Linked DNA regions of Homo sapiens. The protein of the gene in region 2 purifies or fractionates together with the protein of the main gene of each other region. This does not show direct contact. Each region holds a gene or a part of one and is shown on either strand. Other genes may lie near its edges.

Evidence for each region. Proteins that work in one complex are often made in the same cells at the same time.
Region 1: the proteins of CDCP1 (region 2) and CD82 purify together in Homo sapiens (affinity purification with western blotting; one study listed by BioGRID). This does not show direct contact.

Annotation. Positions count from the first base shown.
Region 1 is NC_000011.10:44,568,663-44,572,162, reverse strand, and holds part of CD82 (CD82 antigen), read right to left. Parts: intron 1-3,500. UniProt on the Homo sapiens protein: Structural component of specialized membrane microdomains known as tetraspanin-enriched microdomains (TERMs), which act as platforms for receptor clustering and signaling.
Region 2 is NC_000003.12:45,081,777-45,084,577, reverse strand, and holds the end of CDCP1 (CUB domain-containing protein 1 isoform 1 precursor), read left to right. Parts: 3' UTR 1-2,301; downstream 2,302-2,801. UniProt on the Homo sapiens protein: May be involved in cell adhesion and cell matrix association. May play a role in the regulation of anchorage versus migration or proliferation versus differentiation via its phosphorylation.

The DNA of each region.
Region 1 (3,500 bases), on a different chromosome or scaffold from region 2:
ACAGCCTTCCTTCCTTCCTAGGCTGCAGGAGAATAAGCCAGGCCCCCAGGAGTCCTTCCCCTGAATAAAACCCTGCAGCCGTCCACTGTGGCATCACATGTGCCTCACTTACAAAAGCCAAGTGCAGCAAATGCAAGATAATATAGTTTTGTAGCCCAAGAAGGGCTATAACTTACCCAAGATAACACAGCAAGTAAAAGATGAGCTGGGAACGGAGCCCAGGTCCCCTGATCTCCAGACTCAAGCTCTTCAAAGACTTACATCCTGCTTCCTATTAACAGCACTACCAAAAACACCGAGCACAGTAGATCATGCCTGTAATCCCTTTGGGAGGCCAAGGCTGGAGGATCACTTGAGGCCAGGAGTTTGAGAGCAGCCTGATCAATATGGTGAAATCCTATCTCTACTAAAAATACAAAAATTAGCCTGGTGTGGTGGTGCATGCCTGAAATTCCAGCTACTCAGGAGGCTGAGACACGAGAATCACTTGAACCCGGGAGGTGGAGGTTGCAGTGAGCCAAGATTGCACCACTGCACTCCAGCCTCAGCAATACAGTGAGACTCTGTCTCAAAAAAAAATAAAAATAAAAATAAAACACTACCAAAAGCAGCAGGAACATATATAGCACTAACTATGTGCCAGGCGCTGTCTTAAATGCTTCATATGCATTAGCTCATATATCATTCTCAAACAACCCTATGAGATGAGTACTATTATTGTCTCCATTTTATAGATGCTGAAACTGATGCACAGAGCGGTAAGACACAAAGTCACGCCTAGCTGGTAAGTAGCAGAGGCGGGAATCATCCTTAGGCAATTTGATTCCAGAGTCTGTGATCTTGCCCAGGCTTTCTTCCCCACTCCCCCAGGCCCAAGCCCAGCTGGGACTCAGGAAGGCTTCTGGAACACTTGCTGCCTAAAAGGAAGAAAACCTGCCTAGAAGTCACCTCTCTGGCCAAGGTCATGCTGTAGCTCCATGGCAGAGCCAGGATTTGAACCCGGGCTTCCTAATGCCCAACTACCAGGGCATTGTTCACTTCTCCACATTGACACTGAGAGCCAAGGCCCAGAACTCTGAACAACTCCCACACCAGATCACCCTTCCACACAGCAGGGAAAGTCAAGTTGCGGGGTGGGGCGGCGGAGAAGAGGCAAAAGCTTCTGCTGCAGGGTAGGAGGTCAGAGGGGAGAGTGGGGCTTCCCAGAGCTGCCCACCTGGGGGTCTGCATGGATGATGTCCAGGATGGGCTTCCTGGAGGCCACCGTCCCATTTCTCCAGGCCCCAGCTTGAGTCCCCACAGGATAGCAGCACCTTCCACAAACAATTGTTGACTCCAAGATGCTCTTTCTGGCTGAGTCAGAGTTCACTAAAGGCCAGAGTGGCCCCTTCCTGGGTTAGGACTGAAGGAAGTCATGCTGTTCCCCTCTCAGGAGGGTAATAAAGGCCAGGCATCGGAAGAGAAGCAGAAGCTCTGCTGAAAGCAATTCCAGGACAGACGGTGCATTCCCATCTCCCTGGATCCAGGTTGCAGAAGTGCGGCCCACAGGCCTGAAGCACCAGGCAGTGGCATCCAGGTCCTGCTTCCCGGCTCCACTTTGCCAAGGAGTCACCTGGTATGTGGTACCAAGCTAGGTACTGCTGATACCCCCGGCCTCACCCAAGAGAACCACTAACCTATTCATTCAGTCATCGATCCCCAAGTGCCTGCTGTATGCCAGGAATCAGAGATACAGACAGGACAGGGCAGTGCCTGCCCAGGAGAGCTCATGGAAACACATCATACACCACAAAGTGGCAGGATCAAAGAGGAGGGTACACAGTGTAGACAAGCACAGAGGAGAAGGTGAAGGGCAATGAGGGGCTTGGGAAAGGCAGCCAAGCACAGAGGAGAAGGTGAAGGGCAATGAGGGGCTTGGGAAAGGCAGCCAGAGATGTTCAGACCTACTGCCCCTCAGGAAGCTGAGCGTCACAGTGAGGAGACCCAGCCACCCCCAGGAAGAGCCAGAGAGCCCCACATAGCCAGACATGACTGGCGTCTTGGGGCACACACATATTGGAGAGGCACAGAGGCCCTGTGCAGAAGGAAGGTGTTCTGGGAGTGTCCCTGGGGGCCTGAGAAGGAGCCTGGCACCAGCCTTGAAAGACCAACCAGATACAGCAAACAACAATGGCTCTCCTTTATTGAGCATTTACTATGTGCTAGGTATAACAATACTAAGCATTTCATGTGCACTTTTTTGTCTTCTCCTCATGACCTATGAAGTCATGACCATTATTATCCCCATTTGCAGGTTCAAAAACTGAGGCTCAGAAAGAGTCACGTAGCCAGAAATTGGCAGGGCCGAGATCTCAACTCTAAAGTCCAGTGCTTTACCGCCATGCTGTACCATCATCTCCCTAATCTGTTAACAGGCAGAAAGAAGATAAAGGTGCTTCAGGTGGGGGAAACAAGGTAAAAATAGGGAGGTAGGATCAAGTGCTCTTTGAGGGGAGCTGCCCAGCTCCTCTGTGTTGGGGTTGTATTTGTGTGTGTGCGCATGCCTGAGTATGGGTGGGTGTTCACAGACATGCCCTACTTTGCAAAGGATAGATCCCAGGTCCCAGAACTCCCCGAGAGCCAAGGAAAGAATGGGGCATCAGCAAGTCAGGGAAGGAATCCCAGAGAGAAGGAACTTATCTAAGGTCACACAACATACACACAGCAGAGCAGCAGCCAACTCCAAGGACCAGAACACAGGTCTCTTTCCTCCATCAGCTGCCTGTCCATGTCAGCACAGTGAATCAGCTGCTGACAGGAAAACCACAGTGGAAGGGGAAGCCCGGGGGTGAGTCAGGAACCAGCCAGCCTCCGAGAGACACCAGCTGGGCCTGTTGCAGAGGCCCCGGGTCTGTGGTTGTCTGCCTCTTCTTAGGGCAGCATCAGGGGCGAGGGGAGCAACACATCCCACACCACTCACTCCATGTTTACCTCTGGGCTTCCCCTCCCAGCTCCTCAGACCCCGGCTTAGTGGAGGGGAAGCGGGTGGGTAGGGCAGTTCCTGCTGAGATTAAACGGGTCCTGTCCCACAGAGGGGCCCAGGCCAAACAGTCCAGGCTCTTCCCTCCCTTCCCACCTCTCACAGAGCCAGCTCCTGGCCGTTTGATGTTCTTGATTAAGTCATAACCGCCCCCTGTGAGCTTCCCATGGGGCAGAGGAAGTGGGTATAACGGTTTGGAGCAGAAGGCCAAGGCCAAGGTCAAGCCAGAATCAGGGGTGCCAGCTGGCCCCAGATGCTCCGAATCTGAAACAACACTCAGAACTTGGGGCTGCTCAGCCATGGGTTGAGGGAGGACTGTCTGGTCCTTAGGGGAACAGGTTTGGGTCCCCAGGGTGGAAGGGGATGGCCGGTGGGAGCTTCCAGGCTGTGGCTCTAAAGCGTGAGGCCTCAAGACAGAGGGGGCCGCCCCCACATAGCGGAAACTTCAGAGGAGCCCAGGGAAGCCAAAATCCTGCCCCAG
Region 2 (2,801 bases):
TCAAGCTTCTAGAGGCTGGCTGCATTCCCAGGCTCCAGTGGCTGGTCAAGCTTTTCTCACATGGCATCACTGTGACACTGGCCCTCCCACTTCCCTCTTTGACTTACAAAGCCCACCAGGAAGATCCAGGATAATCTCTCCATCTAAAGTTCCTTCATCATCCTGGAAGAGCCTTTTGCCATGCAAGACAACATAGCCACAGGTGGGGATTAGGACCAGAACATCTTTGGGGTGCTGTTATTCTGCCTACCACACCTTCCTGCCACTGACTCCCACAGGAGAGGCTACAAAATGATCTGGCGCACAGGGATGTTTTGTTTAGCTTGCGGACTCTAACACTTAAAAAAAAACCCAGATCAGAAGATCTGGCCATGCTGGGGCTCACATTCTCACCTAGCAACAACTGGCTGGAGCTGGGCACCAGCTCTGCCTTTAGAAGGGGTGTCCACTTCACCAGGTCACCACAGCCCACACTACGCCCTATCACTTCCCACAATGAGGCTGAGTGTTTGTTTCTACTGATCAATGCCCCTGCAGGTTGCATTTATTGTAATGAAAAAGAAAGACTGGGATTAATCTCTAATCAGGTGAGTAGACCATGAGACCAATGTGTGCTCACATTACCCTTTTTCTTTTTTTTCTTTTTCTTTTTCTTTTTTTTTTTAATGTGAGACAGGATCTCATTCTGTTGCCTAGGCTGGAGTGCAGTGGCGCAATCTCGGCTCACTGCAACCTCTGCCTCCTGGGCTCAAGCAATTCTCCCACCTCAGCCTCCCAAATAGCTGGGATCACTGGCACAAACCACCATGCCCAGCTAATTTTGTATTTTTTGTAGAGACAGGGTTTCACCATGTTGCCCAGGCTGGTCTCAACCTCCTGGGCTCAAGCAATCCTCCTGCCTCGGCCTCCCAAAGTGCTGGGATTACAGATGTGAGCCACCGCATCCAGCCCCACACCCTCATTTATACCAATTACCTGCCCAGTAACTGTGGACTTTTGCTTCCTCACCCCTGCTCTGATCTGGAAGGAGAGGGATTATGTTATAGCTTGTCAGCACAGTCCCAAGTTCAATATTTCTGCGGCAAAAACTTCCTTCAAAAAATAAATGTACTTCATTGTATTCAATGAATTCACCTTGGAAATGCACCGCCTCAACTTGTTCACATGGCATAAATGAAAGGAATTTTATAGTCTCCTAAATGGCGTGTACTGCAAGACCTCTTGAACACTTTCCAGAGGATAGGATATTTAAGTCATGCCCTTGGCGTTGCCTATGGCACCTTTCCCTTCTGAAAGTCTGGTTCCTGCCCAGTGACCCTTGGCCTTGTGAGCCGAGATGCTGACCCTGCATAAAGGGCCAAAGGAGGGCTGCGGCTTCCTTCCCTCACTGAAGAGCCCTTATTTGAATTCACTGTGTGGAGCCCTAGCCCTCCATTCTCGACATTCCCCAACCTCCCAGCCCCTTCCAAGCAGGACTAGGTGCCCTGCATTCCACCCAAGGTGGGATTGGCCTTCCTTAGGCTGGCTACTTGTCACCATCACCGACATCACTGTTGCCTGCAAGGACACCACGTGGCCATTTTCCTTCAACTGAGGGCTCAAAACTCCTGGACAAGTTGCTGGCTCCTGAGACCAGTATTTCCTGGAGCTGTGCCTCAGTGAAGGGGCCCAGCCTGAGGAACCCTGGCTCTTTTCTTTAAAGCCCAGGCCCCACTTACGTAAAACATTTCAGGGTCACTGGAAACAGTGAAGTGCCATTTGTTGAAGCCTACTGCATGCCAGCCCACTGCTCATCCACGTGGTCTGCCATGCCTACGAGGAAGGCCAGCGCATGCAGGACTGGTCTCTAATGCTGTGGTCATTGCACAGAAGGGAAAGGTCTCAAGGAAGAGTCAACTGGAACAAGCACAAGCCCACCGGACATGGCCTTGGTAAAGGTTAGCAGACTGGTGTGTGTGGATCTGCAGTGCTTCACTGGAAATAATTTATTCATTGCAGATACTTTTTAGGTGGCATTTTATTCATTTCCTGTGCTTTAAATAAACAAATGTACCAAAAAACAAGTATCAAGCTGTTTAAGTGCTTCGGCTACTTGTCCCCTGGTTCAGTAGAGGCCCCGGTTTCCCAGTTGTTGACTGTGACAGGCTCAGCATGGGCTCAGCAGATGCTGTCTTAATTTGTGGATGATACAGAAAGCCAGGCTTTGGGATACAAGTTCTTTCCTCTTCATTTGATGCCGTGCACTGTGTGAAGCAGATGTTTTTGTCCGGAAATAAAAATAATAGTCTTGGAGTCTCGCCACCACTGGTTTTCAAGTCTCCCTGTATGCAAGTGGAAGGAATGGAAGCTATGCCAATGGGTAGCTGAGAGGCCAGGGCTTGTTCTGTTCTGTTCTGTTCTTGTGGGGGCTACATGGGCCCCACCCTTTGTGACCTTTCCCAATACCTAACCCCCATAGAGGCCCAGGGCCACCCTAATCACTGACCACAGTTGATCTCTAAGCCCCGTGGAGGTCACCAGCCACCAGAACAAAAGTTAAGGGAGAGCAGTGAGAGAGGGAAGTTCCCATGGCCCCCACCATCTGCCATGCACTAGGAGGGGAGACCCAAGCACATTGGATTGAATCCACCGAGAAAACCAGATGTTGCTGTGTAATGAGCCACCCCAAAATTTAGTTAACAATTAGTAGTTTTGCTCACAAACCTGTAATTAGAGCAGGGTTCAGCAGGGACTGTATATCTCTCCTCCATGTGGCCACAGCTTGGGCAGCATAATTAGAATCCTCTTTCAAGTGGGCTCCA